Homo sapiens: one gene and its partners. The protein of the gene in region 1 interacts with the protein of each later gene in a biochemical or structural test. Each region holds a gene or a part of one and is shown on either strand. Other genes may lie near its edges.

Region 1 (4,850 bases):
ACCAGTGTCGCTTTGTGTGTCCTTATTCATCACCAGCAGCTTTGAAAATGAAGTGCTTAAGAGGTAAAGGAAGCAACTGCCACCCAGTGAAGCACCACAATCATTAGCAATATTACCAGCTCCTCCCAAAATTAACCAGCTTATTCCACAGAAAACCATTCTTAAAAAAGGAATATGGTTGTAAACAAATGGTCTGATGCCATGCAGTAATTAAAATGCTCTGACCGAACAGATGGTTTCCATGACCCATGCTGCTTCTGTCTAATAAGAGAAAGAACGAAAAGTAGAGGGGAGAGGCATCCCAGGCAGGTAAACGTTTCACCAGGTCAAGATGTGAACATGGAAGTGAACGACTTCCCTACAGGAATGTGCAACAGAATTAAAAGTAAGGTGACCAGAAAACAAAGGCAGAGCATCACCACGTACGGTCTCTAGCATGCGGCACTCACTACAATCAGAGAAGCCCGCAGAAAAGGCTCTTGGGAAGGGAACAAAAGAAAGGAGGGAGAAGAAGGTATCACAATGTGAGAGTCACAGATAAGAAGTGAAAAAGAGAATCTCTAAGCACATGGTTTACAAAATATCTCCACAGACCCCACGCTGACAGCCCCGCCCCCACCCGCTGCCCAGCTTGCCTGCACCTCAGGCTGTTACCTTGCAATGCTTTGAAGCCCTGCAGAGGCACTCGAGAGGATCCTGTCACAAACTGAAGCAATCTTGCTCGTCGCTCTTCATCAAAAAACTCCACAGCTTTCCAGAACCATTTGACAATGTTGCTGTCTGGTGTACAGTGTTTTAACCGGGTGTTTACCTTCCAGTCATTAACATCTATCTTTCCAAGTCCACAAATAATGAGCTGTGAAAATAGTACACAGTAATGAACCTGTGGAAACCACAGCCAGACCAAAAATTCCTCAAAAGAGAACTTTAGGTTTGTACTGCTGGCTGTCATTTGGTGGTTCCTAATTAAAGATGCACATCAGAATCATCTGAAAAGCTTTTCAAATTGACATTCCAGGTCCTAGGCTCAGAGATGTTAATTCTGTGCACCTGGGGTGACAGTTGGGATCTATATTTTAAAAAGCTCCAGAGATATCTACTCACTGCAAACTCCCTCTCCAGGGTCTGAGAACCACAGCTGTGATAGACTTGACCAGGTAAACAATTGAGAATGTTTCATAAGTTCATAATAAAATTATAAAGCTTTAAAAAAAATGGACAGAAATTGAGACCCAAAGAGTAAATACAGATATGTGCCTTCTTTGGACCTGCATCATCTACTAGTTTCAATACCTATTAGCTTTGTTGATTGAGGGCAATTCAATCAATTCCTCTGCTGTAATATGGTAGTAACATCCATTTCACTACATCCTGGGGAAGCAACCGATAATGCACAGAAACTTCAGAAATGGGTGTTGAATAAGTGAGTCATACAATTTGCTTAATAATTTTTTTTTTTTAAGACAGAATTTTGCTCTGTCTCCTAGGCTGGAGTGCAGTGGCATGATCTAGGCTCACTGCAACCTCTGCCTCCCGGGTTCAAGTGATTCTCCTGCCTTAGCCTCCCAAGTAGCTGGGATTACAGGCATGCACCACAATGCCCAGCTAATTTTTGTATTTTTAGTAGAGATGAGATTCCGCCATGTTGGCCAGGCTGGTCTCCAACTCCTGGCCTCAAGTGATCCGCCTGCCTCAGCCTCCCAAAGTGCTAGGATTATAGGTGTGAGCCACTACACCTGGCCTACATTTGCTTAATAATATTAAATTGATATTAAAGCACAAAATACATGAGCACATTGATACAGACCTCTGCTAAACACATCCTGATGGAGGGTCACACAGATGAACTATATCCAAATCATTTTATACTATCATTAATATGTCTCCCTAGGGTTCAAGACTAACTCACCATACTAATCTAACATGTTTGTTTATAGCAGTGAATTCCATGTATACTATAAAACATAACTTGCAAATCCTGTATTTTATAGAATTACACCCAGGATTAATATATACAATGCTAAAATAAATGTTATACATATTGTCTTTAAAAATTGGTAGGGTGTGGTAGCTCACGCCTGTAATCCTAGCACTTTGGGAGGACGAGGCATGCAGATCACTTGAGGTCAGGAGTTCAAGACCAGCCTGGCCAACATGGCGAAACCCTGTATCTACTAAAAATACAAAAAGGTAGCCGGGCGTGGTGGCGGGCACCTGTAATCCCAGGTAAGGCATGAGAATCGCTTGAACCCAGGAAGTAGAGGTTGTAGGGAGCTGAGATCCCATCAGCCTGGGGGACAAGTGAGACTGTGTCTCCAAAAAAAAAAAAAAAAAAAAAAAAAGCCAAAATAATGTTAGCCAGGCGTGGTGGTGCACACCTGTAGTACCAGTTACTGGGGAGACTGAGGTAGGAGGATCACTTCAGCATAAGAGTTAACAGTGAGCTAGGATCATGGTACTGCACTCCAGCCTAGGCAACAGAGTGAGACTCTATCTCAAAAAATAAAAATAAAAAGTTTAATGATTCAGGCCTGGTGCAGTGGCTCACGCCTGTAATCCTAACAATTTGGGAAGCAGAGGCAGGTGGATTGCCTGAGCTAAAAAGTTCAAGACCGGCCTGGGCAACATGGTGAAACCCCATCTCTACTAAAAATACAAAAATTAGCCAGGCATGGTGGTGCACACCTGAAGTCCCAGTTACTCAGGAGGCTGAGGCACGAGAATCGCTTGAAAACCTGGGAGGCAGAGGTTGCGGTAAGTGGAGATTGTGCCACTGTACTCCAGCCTGGGTGACAGAGTGAGATTCTGTCTCCACAAATAAAAAAAAGAAAAAAGAGAAGAAAAACAAAGTTTCATGACCCATTAGCAGTAGAAACTATATTAAAAATCCTAACCCTACCAAATAAAGTCTCCAGTAAGGCTTCTATGGGGTTCTGAAATAAAATCTCCAACAAAGCTTCTACAGGGTTCACTGAATTAACACCACACTGAACAGGGAGGAGGTTATCCGAAAAGGATTATGGGTGTATTTAATGACATAAAAGACACCTCCTAAATTCTTTTCTTCAGAGGAATGGCAGTTAGAAGGCCAAATCCTCGTTTATTGTATAAAGAGATGAAAATGCATTATATTTCAACCTTATCGGCATTCCTGCTATGTTCTCCTTCTAACTACTTCCTTCTGGCTATTTCACTATGAACAATTCAATCACAAAAGGAATGGGGAGAGTATTAAGTAAAACCAACCTTTTTAGATTTGTTTGCTAACAGGTCTATTAACAGATTTATTTAGAAAGGACATTGAAGGCATTGAATAAAATCATGTTTCAAATTATTAGTAGACTTCAAATATTTGTGTTATCCCTAACTACTAAATAAATTTGGGACCTTTAATAGAATTAAACCTCGTGTTTTTTAGTTGTTCAGTAGGAAATTCAGATGCATTTGTTTAAGGTCTTAATTACAAAACCTGGGGTGTTTAAGGGCCAGCTTTAAAAGGAAACAAAAAACTATTCACTGTTTAGTATGGCCGTTAATCTAAAGACATTTAGAGGCCAGGTGCGGTGGCTCACACCTGTAATCCCAGCACTGTGGAAGGCCGAGGTGGGTGGATTATTTGAGGTCAGGAGTCCCAGGCCAGCCTGGCCAACATGGTGAAACCCCGTTTCTACTAAAAATACAAAAATTAGCTGGACGTGGTGGCAGGTGCCTGTAGTCCCAGCTACTTGGGAGGCTGAGGCAGGAGAATCACTTGAATCCAGGAGGTGGAGGTTGCAGTGCCACTGCCCTCCAGCCTGGGCAACTCTGTCTCCAAAAAAAAAAAAAAAAAAAAGAGAGAGACATTTAGATTCAATTTATCCTAGGTGTTTTAGTTATTTTCTCGATGATCTTGTCTATCAAATGCTTTCTTGCAAGCTTAGTGTAAAACTAATTCAGAGTAGGCTCTTACCCAAATAAATTTCAAAATGGTAGATTAATGAGGTTTTACTTAACTAAATCAGTAACCACTAAGTTAGGGAATAGACATATATTGGAAGAATGTACATATAAGTCACGAAATCTGTTTAAAACAAGAAAGTACAGGATAGAAAAATAAATTAAAAATTTTCACAATATAAGAGAGACTGCTCACAGCTGGGCATGGTGGCTCAAGCCTATAATCCTAGCACTTTGGGAGGCCAAGGCAGGCGGATCACTTGAGCTCAGGAGTTTGAGACCACCCTGGGAAACATGGCAAAACCCTGTCTCTACCAAAAAAAACAAAAAAATTAGCCAGGGGTGCTGGTGCATGCTTGTAGTCTCAGCTACTTGAGGGGCTGAAGGATCATTTGAGCCCAGGAGGTCAAGGCTGCAGTGAGCCATGATTGCACCACTGCACCCCAGCCTGGGTGACAGAGTGAGACCCTGTCTCAGAAAAAAAAAAAGAGAGAGAGAGACAGATTGTTCACTCACAGAAATTCCAAAGCATGAAAGGCCTTCAAAAGCATGAAAGACTTTTCCTGTGAATAAGAATTCTCAAGCATAGAACCATGAAACTTAGAAAGCACCAGAAATATGCTTTCCTCTAAAACTAAGTAACAAAATAATTCCCAATCCTTCCTTGTTACACTAGTGATGTTATAATACTAATGCACTAACCTCTAACTCCTTCTCATCAAATGTCTTCAGCAGATGTTGTGGAATTACTTCATTAAATCCTTTCTGCAGAGCCAAGAATTGAGCCTCAATGCCTCGTAAAAATCTCCAGTTCACATAGAGCCTGTAAACATTCGGCAGGATTTCGTATAATCACATGTATTTTCAGATCTGGTAATTATTATTATAAATCTCTACTTTAGCAACACCGCATC
Region 2 (4,850 bases), on another chromosome or scaffold:
CCGCCGCTCATATGAATTAGAGTGATTGGTTGATTGATCAGGGCACCTGTTGTAAATCATAACTGTTCCAAACAATCACTAGCCGGTGCTTTAATTTGTAAACAAAATTCATGTCACTGCAGAATTGCTTTCACTGAAGATGAGCATTTGGGTTCCTTTCTAAATGAATCTGTTGTTATTATGTAGGGAAGAATGGGGCCCACTTTAAAGAGATGAGCAGCTGTTTTGGGCCCAGCTCCCCAGCTCAATGGTATTATTTGTCTGTTCTTGGGCATAGTATCTGATGGGGTCCACCCTCCTTATCCTTTCTAGTGATGACCATAGATCTGGGTCCAATAGGAAAGGAGGAAGGGGTTTCCATTGGAATTACCATTTTATATCACCGCATGGTGATAATCACCGTCAGGCTTCAGCACCAAATGAGATAGGCATTATTATCCTCAGGAGACAGATAAGGAAACTGAGGAGGTTCAGACAGAGTCAGTCAGGTGTCTAAGGTCACAGAGTTAGCACACGATGGAATAAGATTTGCCTGGTTCCCAGCACAGTCCAAACTCTGGGTTGTTTGATTTCTTGATTTGGGTAGTGAGCAGGACTGTAGCAAATGACACTCATATGTCTACACACGAAGTAAGTTTCCAGAGGAGGTATGGCTTTGCCATCTGTTTGTTTACAGCTCTCTGAACGCACTGCAGCCCCACTGGAATAAACACTTCCTCCCTCAGCTTTCCACTTGGTGTCTGTCCTGTGGCCTCACACAGAGACACATTCTATCAGCCGGTCATCAGGATCGAAACTTGGTCACCTTTATGGCAATTTTTTCTCTCTTTCTAGTTCCAGTTCCTCCCAAATCGGTGACTTCTCTAATGATGAATAAAGACGGCTTCCTGGGAGGCATGTCTGTCAACACCGGCGAGGTGTTTTGCTCCGTCCCAGGCCGTTTGTCTCTGCTCAGTTCAACTTCGAAGTACAAAGTAACTGTGGGAGAAGTTCAGAGACGGCTGTCGCCCCCTGAATGCCTCAATGCATCTCTCCTCGGCGGAGTCCTCAGAAGGTAACCCCACCACGAAAAACAAAAACAAAAACAAAAAAACAAACAAAAACCCACCAGTTTTTATTTATTGGACAGTGAGGAGAAGGTTCCAGCAAAACCCAATCTGCAGTCTGACGCAGTTGCCTAGCAACCGGGTGGCCGGAGCATTGCTTTCGCGCAGCGCTTGGGAGGATCCGCGGCCGCCACCTGCTCGCCCACAAACTCTAGTGTCCTTGCATCCAGGCCTGCCCGCGCCGCGCAAGTCCTACCGCAGATTTTGCCGCCCTGGGAACCTTTCACTTTCCTGGCCCTGCGCCTGGCGCCTCTCTTCCTGTCACCCCTAGGACATCTCAGGGGGCATTCTCCAGCCTGAGTACAACGCGGAACTAACAGCCCCCCAGCCCCCCCACAAAAAACCCCATAAGTTTCATGAAGCAACTCTCTTCATACCTTCAGTGTACTCTTTCTCTTTTATTGCATGTTTTAAATGCAGTTGGCACCCAGTGAAATTGGTCTTTCAACCTGCTGATGCACTGTAACCCAGTTTGATAAACTCTTTTTCTAAATTTGTGACATCCCTCTTTCAATAACACCACCACCAATAATAGCAATAATATCACTTTAGAAGTATTTATAGGTATTCCTGGGAGCCATTCAGGTGCTTCACAGTATTCCACAGCCCAGAGACTGACTCCTCCTCGTGGAAATGTGAGAGAATGTGGATTTTATCTTAAGATGTAATGCCTCCCTTGAAGTCCCTGCCAATGCCTGAACACTTTGGCAGTGTCCCTGATATGAAAGTGACTTTGTCTGAGACAAAACTTTCCAAGATGACCCCTTCTGGGGGTTGACAGTCCTTTTCTTTCCTAAAAGTGACTGTATGAATAGTACAGCAAAAGAGATTACAGTAACTGAGGATTTTTACTTGTACTTTTGTCCATACTTTAGCACATACAAGGAGAATCTTGGGAGAAATTAAGGGTGTGACCCAGGAACTTTCTCATTTTGAATCCTCTTCCTCTGCCCTCCTTTGATTCAGTTTTCAAGTGAGTGCTTTGAGCCTCAGAGTGTGGAAGTTTTCAATCACCCCCTGAACATTAAGCCTGTATATATAAATTTGCAGAGATGAAGTAAAATAATCAATATAAAGTGCTTATCACATAACTACACTTCCAAAAGTGTTAGTTTTACTGTTATTATGATCATCACCATTTCGATTTCAGTCTGCCCTCTCCTTTTAACATAACACCATATACAGCAACTCTTGACCCCTTCCTCACAAAGCCCACCTGTTGCAGCAAGTGCGCTCTCCTCTCTAAGCCACCTGGCTCTTATCCTCTTTTCAGCAAGGTTGTGCTTGCCCAGTTTCTGCTCACCTCACTAACTCCATGACAAGGAAGGAACATGCACGTGCATGTGCAGCTTCTACCTTCTCTAGACCCATAACCTACACCTAATTATTCCCATCTGGTATCCTTTTTTTTTCTTTTCTCACAAGATAAAAAAAGAACACTCAGTTAAAAAAAATTCTCTGTATTGCAGAAATTAAGCAAACCTCAGCAAACTATCAGCAAATAACCAAAAGGAAGGGGGAAAAATGTGCTAACCTCAAGTTAAAACCTCTTCAAGCTCCACTGGGCTTTAGATTGCTAAGTCTAAACTTTGTTTCAGGAACACTCTAAGGTTAATCAGAATGTTAATTCTTGCAATTTCAGAGCCAAATCGAAAAATGGGGGGAGATCTTTGCGAGAAAGGCTAGAAAAAATCGGTTTGAATTTACCCGCGGGCAGGCGCAAAGCAGCAAATGTCACGTTACTCACCTCCCTGGTGGAAGGTAAGCAAGACGTGTGGCCATTTCACGAAGTGGCTGAGCTTAACTGTCGGCTGGAGGCTGACATTTTACACATTTCATGATTAACTGGAAATCGTTGTGATTGTTGTGCTCTTATGAGCTGGATGTCAAGCGGCTTCTTGAGAGAGGTTCAAAGGTCCTTTTACTTAGAGGAAGCCAGCAGTTGTAGACAGGGCAAGGGAAGTATTTGAGAGTTCCTGTGCTCTGAAAAGTGCTCAGGTCCAGCCTCCAAGACAAAGCAGGGGTCACTCCTGCTGTCACGTGCAGGACATCCTCTATGTGAACTCTTGCAAGAGTAACTCTTTAAGCAATAATTCATTCTATACCCCTTCACCTTGCCAGATTTGAATTGTCAGTAGTAGAAAACACATTGCATTCATGACCCCTAATGGTTATTTTAAAACTTTTGTCACTCCTAGGGCCAAATCTGCAGATTACCTGGGACATGTTGTTATTGAAATATTGATAGCTTAGTAAGGCCAATGATAGCTAGGGGAAGATTGGGGAGGAGGGGTGAAGAAATATGTAGGGGAGTCAGGTATTATCTTCAATGTAGATTCATCAATTGTGAATTATAGGGTGATAATTGCAATAAGCACCTTATAATTTGCTCATCAGTTTGGGTTTGGGGATGATATTTATGGTATGTAATAAACAAAATCATCTACACAGTCCAGAACAAGAGGATCTGCAGTTGAATTTGTGGGAAATAATATGAAATACAGTCAGATGGTCCTAATGGAGGAAGATGCAGAATTTTCTCTAGCATCTAGCTTGTAGGTCTTGTGTTTTAATTCCATTTGTATGGGTGTAATATTATGATGCTCCTGTAGAGAGTTGGTTTTAGAAGATGGAATATTAAAATATTTAGGCAGCAACCATTAATCATCACAGTTACAGGCCTTATACTTGGCCATTTTTAAGGCAAAGTTGCTTGGCCTGAACACCCTCCAGAGGCAGGAATCACTGAAATTTCCAGACCACACTTACTAGTGGTTGACTCTTAGCCTGGAAGTTTCACATTTTACCCTTCAGGGAATTGCTAATATCATAGTCCTCATTTTGGAAAGCAATCAAGGTAACCTTAGCTCAAGACAGGGATTTCAGGGGAGAAGGGAGGAAACTGGAAACCCCACTAAAATTCCAATATTTGTTTGGCAGTTTTTGGTTTTGTGACTCCTTGTAAGCACCATGCCTGAAGTCTTTTGTTGTTATGATAATAATGATTAAAAGTAAGTCATCCTCCTTAAAAATAATGTAGCTATGGGGTATTTCAACATATCTGTTTTTCATGTATGGGATCTGTCCTTGAACCCCAAAAGGCTGTGTTTAAAGGGTAATAATGCTTTACTTGAAAGGGGCTTTCACATAAGCTGAGTAATACCTTAGATACTCCAGTTTTCTGTAGCTGCTGTGTCATCTTTGTGCAGTGAAAAGTCCTGAAGTAGGAGGATGATGACAGGAACCTCTGAAGGGGAGAAACCTGAAACTTGACTAGCAGGAAAAGTGACAAGGAGAATTATTATTTCATTGCAGATAGAAATACTCTTTCCATATACATTTTACATATAGTGTTTAATATATGTGGACATATATACACATGGGCTTGTTTTTATATATTTGTTGGAATACAGTTGTAGCAAGATGATGGTCACTTTTAAATTTTATTTAAAGCAAGTGTGACAGATGCTTTAAAAAGAAAGAGGAATCTGGCTTAAATGTCCAGCCAAATGTCCAAATTCAATTATAAGGTGGCTCTTGACAAAAAGATTAGGGTGTAGGAGACCCCGTAGCTATTCAGGGGATGTCTAGCTAGGAGTTGGCTCAGGGAGAGGCAGGAAAAAGAGACAGGAGCAAAGTTGGTCCCACCAATTTTAATTATAGCTTGAGAATCATTTTTCCTTTAGGCATCTCTCACCTTTGCTTTTGGCTCCAACAGCTGGCCTTCTCTGGAAATACTAACAA
Region 3 (5,507 bases), on another chromosome or scaffold:
GCAGCCTGGGTGACAGAGTGAGACTCTGTCTCAAAAAAACAACAAACAAACAAACAAACAAATGGAGTGGATTTGGGTAATCATTCTAAACCAAACTGTTTTTGGAATTTTGGCATGTCAGAAAGCAGATGAATTACAGCTCACATGTACGACTGCACCCAACTTCAGTCCTGAGTCTCTTGGCTAAGCTGTAGCTCTACCATCACATGGATGATGAGCAAACATCAAGAACACAGACGCCATGGCCACGGTGTGGCTGGACTGCTTGGATTCTGCCACTTACTAACTGTATAACCCAGCAAGTTAATTGAACCTCACTGTGCCTTGGTTTTGTCACCTGTAAAATTAACAATAGTATCTACCTCATAGGATTAAATGAGATCATATTTGCAAAGTACTGCTTAGGATAGTGGCTGGCACAGAGTAAATGCTATATGTTTTTGATAAATAAAACAATTAATAAATGGAAATCTAGGAATGTGGACAAAATTTAAAAGTTGGAAAAGCAAACTTTGGGGCAGCTTGGGGAATTCTGTCACAACTTATTTTTCTGATCACAAGTGCAATGAGAATAAATTTCTTCCCACCCTACCCTAAACTAATGCAATCTCAATTGAGCGGTGGAACATGCTTCATTCACTAATTAGAATTTAAAAAGGAAGTGATAACCTCACGGAGCACAGCCCCATTGACCCTGAGGGTGACTATACAGGACCTTCAATTGCTGATTCTCTCCCATCCTTCTCTGGGATCTGTTTCTCCCACCCTCCCCATTCTGAGGTAGCTGGAAGAGAGTAGGCTTTGTGCCCTTTGGCGAGTACAGGGAGAAAATAGTAGGTTCAGCCTCTCCAACTGCCCAGGGAGAAAGCAATACCTTTCAAGGTCCCCAGGCTAAATTTTGGAGGGATGCTTTTGTGTGTCACTGTCAGGCTCACACCGACATAAACCCTTGAGAAATGCCTGGTTGGTGACGTCCTAGAGGTAACACCAAGCAAGCCCCAGATTTTCTCTTCTTCGTCAGCAATTCCCAGATGAGGTGCTCTTGTGTTTACCCTCTCTGATTGTCTGGATTCCCTGATAGTACCCTCTATACAAGGAACTAGAATGTTTCTTACTGGATTCCTCTGTTGGTGGTGATAGAGTTTACTTTGGGTATCTAGTCGGTCTGGTTGCCCCTGGTATCTCTGGTTGGTACAACAGAATCCTGACTGAGCTCCTTAGTGCCTTCTTGAATACTGTATAATTAACTAGGCCTCCAATTGTGCCCCGCCTTGCCCCAGCCCATAGATGGACAATCCCTCCTGCCATGTCTTAAAGAGAAATTACCATAATAAATGACTCTCCAGACAGCACATTTCCCAGCAAGAGGGGGCATGTAAACCAAGTCTATTAGTATTGGCAGCAAAATCCAATGTGTTATTGTTACCAGTATGAACACTCTGGGTATCCTGGCCTCCTATATAGATATTTGAAACAAAACAGACAAACAATGTGAAGGAAGGAGGAAAAACAGCCACACAAATGAGTTACAGTGAGTTTAATGAAAACTAATTCCATTGCTGGGTCCATGTGATATAACCAGCCACTTGTGCTCTGTTCTAGTGGTTTATAATGTTACCTCACCCTCTCCAAGAAATTGGTTTCCCGTAAATCTCTGTGGCCATTCATTCCTGTCTACACATTATGTTCCTAAAATAGACACCAGCTAAAAATCTCTTCCAGGAGCTTTGTGAAGGAAGGCCTAAATTGCAAAACTCCTCCTAGAAGAGAGATGTGATTTTGTAATTGCTTCATTGCAATTACAAAAGCAACAATCATAAAAGAGAGTTTTAAAAGAGTTTTTCACCACAGTCATTCTCCTGAAATGCACAGCTGAGGGAAAGAAGAATGTCAGATGCCCCGCGAACGTGCAGAAGCTCCCAGTTGCATCACCCTGGCGTGCCAGGTATTGCAGCAAATAGGAAAGGTAAGCTACCCACTTCTCTGGGCAGGAGAAACTAAAGCAGGAATCACCAACCTCAGCATGGAATTTTCCTATTTCTGTCTGGCAACATCCTCTTGGGATGATTTAAAGTGCTTTTTGGAGAAATATGTTCTGTTACTATACTAGCGCATCAGAAATACCACGTGAACCTGTAAATCCATAGAAGAAGAAGACACATTTTATAGGTGTGATAGCAACAGCAATTGGCAATTTGCAAGTTTGCTACTGCACTCAGAAATATTTAGTCACATGCACATATTGACAGTAATATACCCTGCCTTGACTTAATTGTTGCATTGGACAGGTGAAAAGCACATACCCACCACTCCAGACCGATTTGTTAACAATCACCAGTGAGTAATCAAAGAGAACAAAAAGAAATGAGAAGTAAATGCAGCAAGTGGGTCGGGTCTTTAAACACATACCTCAAACAGGTAGGAGTCAGGAAATCCATGATAGCAAAGACATTTGGACAAGCCTCACCTCCACTCAGAAATAATTCTTATGCTGTTCTGAAAAGCAAGACGGTTCACACTAGGAACTGAGCAGTATCTGCAGTATCATTGCTGGTTGTGACCTCTGTCTAAGTAAAAGTAAGTCAATGTTTCCTATTTGGCATTGGATAGAAAAGGGGACTCTTTACCACTCTGCTCAAGCTCTTTTTTAGTGTGGCTCAATAGGAGTTGGCAGAGGTGGGGGGCGGAAATCATTGCCCCTTCCTTGTTCAAGGCATGAGGCATTTCTTCTCAAAAGCCCAGCCTCAGCCTCAGGAAGCTGAATACCCCTGCAATGCTAGGCTCCAGCAGCAGCCCCGCTGCCTTCTTTCTTCCTGTGGAGTTAAAACTGAGATCTAATTTTTGCTCCGTCCTTAAGAACAATATGACCTCTATTCCCAGCCAGCTAGTCCACTTCCAAAGCACCAGTGAAGGAGGGGGCTTCAACAGGATCAAAAGGGACCTTGAATAGGATGAAGGCAAGCAAAGGCAAGAACTGGCCAGATGCCAAGCTATTTCAGGCCAAAGAATCCCATCTTCTATCAAAATGCTGAACTGCAAAACAAACCTGATTTCAGTTCATGGAAGGTTGAGAGAGGAGGGGGGAGGGGAGGGGAGGAGAAGAGGAGGAGAGGGAGGAGGGGGACAGTTGGTCTGAATACACATACAAAAATGGACTTCCTGCTCTGCCCAAACTGAATTTCCATGGACTCTTTTTCCAAAGGAATAACTGGAATGAATAAACTTAAAATCAAGATGAAACAATTAGATGGCTTACCTGATTAAAAGGAAAATTATCCATCTGCAGTGAGGAACAGCATCACCCAAAGACGAGATGATAACAATGTGCCTTCAGTTGCAATTGTTCAGATTCCTTCTTGCAAAAGGTGTCAAAGTATTTACAAGGGCTGCAGTCTCACTGGGGCAGAACACACAGACACACAAACACACACAAACGCACACATACACACATGCACCAGAGACCTCTGCAGTATCCTCTCGGCTTCATCCTCGCCTCACTCTATGGTACCTAATACAAATCAGCAAATAGCTTGTTTCAAAAAAAAAAAAAAAAAGTCAAGACAGCACCTTACATTACATCGCCATCTAGTGGCTAAATATTAAACACTTTCTCACAATCCAGATTTATGATTTCTTCCTCAACCTCTTTTCTCTCAGCCTTTTTTCCTTTCTTCTCTGTAATCTCCCAGTATTGCTTCTCCTTGCTTCTCTTTCATTCCCTATTGCTATATAATATCATGAACCTAATGACTCAAAGAGGAAAAGGTTTGAAAGTAAATATAGCTATTTTCAAGTAGTACTTGAAAAACTTTAGCATTATTTTAGTTTGAAACTGTTACTTTATTCCTAATATGAATCATTGTTATCTATAAAAATGATATATCTTATAAATAAAACTGTCTTTTTATTCCACCAGGAAACAATCAGGTGGCCCTTTATTACAGATCTATGGCTTCACATTTTTCTGTTTTAATATTGTGTTTTAGGATTAGGTTTCATATTATAGTGAACAGCTCAGAGTCACAAAATGTGAGTTTTACTTCAACACTGATGAACACATGCCTTTAACAAAGCCACTGAAGTCTTCTATGGACATTTACATTCTTACTATCTTCATCTGTAATTACAGATTAAACAAGACTTTCAACCCACTCTCAATTTCTATGGTTTTACTATATTTTACTCCAATGTTTTCCCATCTTGTGGACACAGCCTAAAGCTTAATTATAATAACACATTTTAATAAGCAAATATATATAGAAAGAGAGTCCAATTGCCTATTACCCAAAGATAGAATTATAAAAACCATGAATATCAGTTTTTTCTAAGACAATAAAAATCCATGCCAAACTAATTATAACTCTTGGAACTGAGAGTAGAGCTTTTTATGTTATATATTGTATTCTAAAATGGAATCAGCCTTAAACATTCAGTCATACATAAAATCACGATTATGTGTAGATTAGTCATTGGAAGTAAATATTTCATCCTCATTATTTTTCTTTTGCCATCTAACACACTTATTACAATCATTGCATGTGTTTTATCATTTATCAATATAACCTTCAATATTTAATCCTTCTCTTCCTTATTACAGGATGGTGAGATAAATACTATTAATGTTATTATATTATAATTATTCCTATTTATACTTGAGAACACTGAAGCTTTCTGAGCCTTACTGAGGTTTATTCAAGACCACATAGCTTGCAAAGCAATAAAACTAAGGCTGTTGGTCCCAAGAGCCCAAAGAATAATCCACTGTTCTTTGCAACATACCTAAAAGTTCACCATTTTTTCCTGTTCTAGAATCACAGAAAAGTAATTTTGATTTCTATGTTTACAAAACATTTACTAGCCCTTAATTATGGACCAATGGGTCCATCTTGTGGATCCATCTTTTTATCTATAAAAGAAAGAAATTAAGTAAGATAATTTCCTGTTCCAGCTCAAAAACTCTATCCAGTGCTTTCCCAAAAGCCAGTTGGAGTAGCATGAACACATTCATTTGAAGTTACTCAATGTCTGGGAAATGATGTTGCCCAGTATCTGGTAGAGTCAGGGCAAAGTTGAAAGAAGATGAGGAGACAGGTGATCAACAACTGGTAAACGATTGCCAAGATGTTAGAGATGAAAAGAGAGTGGGAACTGCATGAACTAACAGGCAATTTTTTTAGAATAATACATTCCATATGAATAGTACTTAGAGATTAGATATGTAAAAACACAAAATAAGAACATACCTGGCCACATGTTTTAATGAATTCTAATTGCATATTATAGGTGCCAATTTTTCTGAGTGTCTGCTCTTAACAATTCCCCCAATAGTTCTTCTCCCCTGATCCTTAGTGGTAAACCTACCCTCTTGCTACAGAGGACTGGAGCAAGAGAGGGTATCTACGCAGCTGACCTGGTCAAAGAGAGCCACTACATGTGATTCTGGCAGCTATGGAGTCAGCTTTCCCTCACCATGGGGACTCAGGACCAGGTGGACCAGGATACTGAAA
Region 4 (4,833 bases), on another chromosome or scaffold:
GAGAGAGCGTCACTCTAAGATCTGTCTGCCAGGTATTTATTGAGAGAGCTTGTTTAAACTACAATTTAGACAAACAAGAGACATCCACCAGGTGGCTCTTGGCGGTCGGGTATGAGGCACATATGGCCTTGTAAAAAACACTCAAACCACATTTTTAGGAGGCTGTGTTCAGCGCTCCTTATCACACATACTACTCCCTGTCCTGTTTTCAAGGTCCAGGAGATCTAGTCTTGTGTACAAACAACATGCACACAGCGCCTCAATATTTTTCCATGCCTCGACCTCACATGCCTCTTACATAGGCTTGAATGTCTTGTCGTGCGCCCCCCACACCTGGGCAACAAAGGGAGACTCCATCTCAAAAAAAAAAAAAAGGCCGGGCACAGTGGCTCATGCCTGTAATCCCACCAGCACTTTGGGAGGCTGAGGCGGGCAGATCACAAGGTCAAGAGATTGAGACTATCCTGGCCAACATGGTAAAACCCTGTCTCTACTAAAAATACAAAAAATTAGCTGGGCGTCCTGGTGGGCGCCTGTAGTCCCAGCTACTCAGGAGGCTGAGGCAGGAGAATCGCTTGAACCCAGGAGGTGGAGGTTGCAGTGAGCCGAGATCACATCATTGCACTCCAGCCTGGGCAACAAAGGGAGATTCCATCTTTAAAAAAAAAAAAATTAGGAATGATTTATTCATTTATTCAACACATATAGCAGTTGAATACTCTGGAGCCAGACTACCTGGGTTTGGATTATAGATCCCAGGTGATTGCACCTGGGGGGCAAAGTTTGGAGCCTCTGCTGTAGAAGACTTCAAGGATTGAACGAGCAGGCAGCTAGGACAGTGCCAGCACAGTGGTTCCCGACCCTGCCTGCGTGTTGGAATCACCTGGGCACCTTCAGAAACCACTGATGCCTCAGCTCACCTCCAAAGATTGTGATATAATTGAACTGGGTGTGGCCTGGGCTTCAGAATTTATAAAAGATTCTCCAGATAATTTAAGTTTCGGAACTACTGACCTAGCATGTAGCGCTTATTAGATAATGATAGCTATTGTTGCGAGGTGCTATTCTAATAACTGCTTTACAGGTATTTACTCATTTACTCATTCATCTGTTCCTTTAAAACTATACGGAGGCACATGTCCTCAGTACCTCCCGAGGCTGTGTCACAGGCATGCATCCTTTAAAAAAGGAAGAAAAAAACTATTGTCATTTTACAGACAAGGAAACAGGCATAGAGTGGTTAAGGGACTCGCCCAAGGCCACAAAGCTAGTGTGTGGTGTGAGTTCTGGCCCGGGCTGTCTGATTTCAGTCCTTGCCCTTACCCCCTGGCCTGTGTTGCACTGAGCACTTGCTGTCTGCTGGTCCCTGAGTGAATGAATTCTGCATGAATAACGCATTCTTTCATTTCTACCTCCAAAACCTTTAGGGGAGGGGAGAGAGGGGCTCACAGAGAGGAAATGGAGGCTTGCAGCTGGCAAGAGGCAGGACCCGCCGCTCCTAACTACCTGTTCTCTGTTGCCGCAGAACCTGAAGGCGGCTAACACAGACCCCACAGCCCCGCCCTACGACACCCTCTTGGTGTTCGACTATGAGGGCAGCGGCTCCGACGCCGCGTCCCTGAGCTCCCTCACCTCCTCCGCCTCCGACCAAGACCAAGATTACGATTATCTGAACGAGTGGGGCAGCCGCTTCAAGAAGCTGGCAGACATGTACGGTGGCGGGGAGGACGACTAGGCGGCCTGCCTGCAGGGCTGGGGACCAAACGTCAGGCCACAGAGCATCTCCAAGGGGTCTCAGTTCCCCCTTCAGCTGAGGACTTCGGAGCTTGTCAGGAAGTGGCCGTAGCAACTTGGCGGAGACAGGCTATGAGTCTGACGTTAGAGTGGTGGCTTCCTTAGCCTTTCAGGATGGAGGAATGTGGGCAGTTTGACTTCAGCACTGAAAACCTCTCCACCTGGGCCAGGGTTGCCTCAGAGGCCAAGTTTCCAGAAGCCTCTTACCTGCCGTAAAATGCTCAACCCTGTGTCCTGGGCCTGGGCCTGCTGTGACTGACCTACAGTGGACTTTCTCTCTGGAATGGAACCTTCTTAGGCCTCCTGGTGCAACTTAATTTTTTTTTTTAATGCTATCTTCAAAACGTTAGAGAAAGTTCTTCAAAAGTGCAGCCCAGAGCTGCTGGGCCCACTGGCCGTCCTGCATTTCTGGTTTCCAGACCCCAATGCCTCCCATTCGGATGGATCTCTGCGTTTTTATACTGAGTGTGCCTAGGTTGCCCCTTATTTTTTATTTTCCCTGTTGCGTTGCTATAGATGAAGGGTGAGGACAATCGTGTATATGTACTAGAACTTTTTTATTAAAGAAACTTTTCCCAGAGGTGCCTGGGGAGTGAACTGTTTTCTAAATAGAAGGTTTATTGGCATCTAACTCACATACCATACCATTCACTTGTTTAACGTTTACAATTCAATGGTTTTTAGAATTTTCAGAGTTCTGCAAAAAGAGTGGGCTCTGTTTACCCTGCTGGCTTCACCCAAGCTTCCTCTCAATGGCAGGGGATACTCAGGGTCAGCTTCCATGCCTAAGTGGGCTCAGGGAGGGGAGACTTGCCCTCCTTTGCAAAGTCAGTTGCTCCATGAGAGAGAACCATTAACCTCTTACCCCAAGGCTGAGCCCCTCCACAGCCCCAGCAAGGTCTCTTCTGGAACAGCGGCTGCCCTCCCTGCAGGACAGTGTGTGACGACTTCCTCTTCTATGCTGGAGGGGTCCCTGTTGAAAGGCAGGGGTTGGGGAACAGCCAGCTCTGCTACTTGCTAGCACATTTTTTTTTTTTTTTTTGAGACGGAGTCTCGTTCTGTCGCCCAGGCTGGAGTGCAGTGGTGTGATCTTGGCTCACTGCAAGCTCTGCCTCCTGGGTTCACGCCATTCTCCTGCCTCAGCCTCCCGAGTAGCTGGGACTACAGGTGCCTGCCACTATGCCCAGCTAATTTTTTTTGAGTGTGTGTGTTTTTTTAGTAGAGACGGGGTTTCACTGTGTTAGCCAGGATGTCTCGATCTCCTGACCTCGTGATCCGCCCACGTCGGCCTCCCAAAGTGCTAGGATTACAGGCTTGAGCCACCGCGCCCAGCGCTGGCACATCATTTAACCTCCAGTTGCCTCAGATTTTACATTTACAAAATGGGGAGTTTTTGTGGAGATTAAGTGAATTAATATCTGGCACATGGTCCATGCAATCTGTTAGTTGGTAACAGCTACCATTTATTCAGTACTTTTAAAGGCCAGACAGGACTTCGATTATTTCCTCTAAATCCTCACAATCACCCTCTGAGGGGACTTTCTCCTTTAAAGAATGGCCACATTGTATTTGTTTTTTTAAATGACATCTGGTCATCATCGAAATCAAGCAAAACAAAATTAAGAGAACCTACCCAAGATGTCAGTGAAATTGGAACATTCCTGACAATACCAGGGCATAAATGCAGGAATCAGGAATAGGCAGCAGTGATAGAACAATTCTGTTTGTGCCCTTGTTAACGTGAAGTTCAAAGTCATCTTTGCAATTAGCCAAAAGAATCTGAAGTGAAGCTGAGGAAATTGCTGATGTTGAAATAAACATTTCCTTCCATGAGGATGACTAATTCTGTAAAGCGTCTCTGCTCAAAGCACAGACCCTGAACCGGAGTTATCGGTGCCACCTGCTGAATCGGAACCTCTAGGCAGGGCCCTGCTGTGGGTTGACAAGCCCTCCGTGGGATGCTCCTGCACACTCAGGTTTGCTGCCAAGACTCTGAAGGATGAGGCCAAGGAGCCTGAAGCCTCAGACTTTGGATGGAGAAACCAAAAGGAAATGAAGTTGGGGCTGGGCACCATGGCTCACGCCTGTAATTCCAACACTTTAAGAGGCTGAGGTGGGTGGATCACTTGAGGTCAGGGGTTCGAGACCAGCCTGGCCTGATCCGCCCGCCTCGGCCTCCCAAAGTGCAGAGTTATAGGCGTGAGCCACCGTGCCCGGCCTACACACACATTTTTGTACTAAAAATACAAAAATTAGCTGGGTGTGGCGCCTATAATCCCAGCTACTTGGGAAACTGAGGCACAAGAATCTCATGAATCCGGGAGGTGGAGGTTGCAGTGAGCCGAGATCACGCCACTGCACTCCAGCCCAGGCGACAGAGTGAGACCCTATCTCAACAACAAAAGGGTATGAAGTCGGATGAGAAAGCTCACCTGTCCTTGGTCCATGGCACCCTCAGGACAAAGCCGCCTCCTGCCTCTCCCACTGAGCTGGGGCCTCAGATTCCCCTCTGCCAGGGCTGTCTTTGCTGACAGGGAGTGTGGGAGGATTGGGTGTCTCTGCTAGCAAACACCTGCTGCCCGTTATCTTCAACTCCCTTCAGAGAAGCCTGGATAAATCAGAAACTCTATCTTCAGCAGAGGCTAATCATGAAACCAAGCAGCCCCTGTTTAGGCTGGCCTTCCTCCCCTGAGATATTTGGAGGAAAAACAGCCTTTCCCAGCCTCAACTGGCCTCGGTGGATGGATGTAGAGTCCCCTGGCAATGGAACCAGTCACCAGCCCCCGAGAGGTTTAGAAAGAATCAGAGCCTGGGCTCTGTGATGGGGACAATATTAAGTCACTCTCTCACTCTGGGCCTGCTTCTCATCTGCAAAACAGAAGCTTAGGACTCTGATCCTTAGTGCCTGTAATAAGTAAAAACATTTGCATTGGTAAGACACCAGCGCTAACCACGCAGAGTGGACACTAACCAGAAACAACTGATGTGCTGGCCATGATGAGGACCATCGGTCCTTTGAATTTTGTGTTTCAACACTTT

The links. Proteins that work in one complex are often made in the same cells at the same time.
Region 2: the proteins of SMURF2 (region 1) and TFAP2B interact in a surface display test, tested with the Homo sapiens proteins (one large-scale study listed by IntAct).
Region 3: the proteins of SMURF2 (region 1) and SCN1A interact in a surface display test, tested with the Homo sapiens proteins (one large-scale study listed by IntAct).
Region 4: the proteins of SMURF2 (region 1) and CDH3 interact in a surface display test, tested with the Homo sapiens proteins (one large-scale study listed by IntAct).

Annotation. Positions count from the first base shown.
Region 1 is NC_000017.11:64,546,946-64,551,795, forward strand, and holds part of SMURF2 (E3 ubiquitin-protein ligase SMURF2), read right to left. Parts: intron 4,760-4,850; coding exon 4,639-4,759; intron 857-4,638; coding exon 655-856; intron 1-654. UniProt on the Homo sapiens protein: E3 ubiquitin-protein ligase which accepts ubiquitin from an E2 ubiquitin-conjugating enzyme in the form of a thioester and then directly transfers the ubiquitin to targeted substrates.
Region 2 is NC_000006.12:50,835,227-50,840,076, forward strand, and holds part of TFAP2B (transcription factor AP-2-beta), read left to right. Parts: intron 1-834; coding exon 835-1,054; intron 1,055-2,748; coding exon 2,749-2,867; intron 2,868-4,850.
Region 3 is NC_000002.12:166,124,515-166,130,021, forward strand, and holds the start of SCN1A (sodium channel protein type 1 subunit alpha), read right to left. Parts: upstream 3,507-5,507; 5' UTR 3,257-3,506; intron 2,497-3,256; 5' UTR 2,410-2,496; intron 1-2,409. UniProt on the Homo sapiens protein: Pore-forming subunit of Nav1.1, a voltage-gated sodium (Nav) channel that directly mediates the depolarizing phase of action potentials in excitable membranes.
Region 4 is NC_000016.10:68,696,666-68,701,498, forward strand, and holds the end of CDH3 (cadherin-3 isoform 1 preproprotein), read left to right. Parts: intron 1-1,427; coding exon of another isoform or gene 1,428-1,502; exon of another isoform or gene 1,503-1,525; coding exon 1,526-1,735; 3' UTR 1,736-3,627; downstream 3,628-4,833. UniProt on the Homo sapiens protein: Cadherins are calcium-dependent cell adhesion proteins. They preferentially interact with themselves in a homophilic manner in connecting cells; cadherins may thus contribute to the sorting of heterogeneous cell types.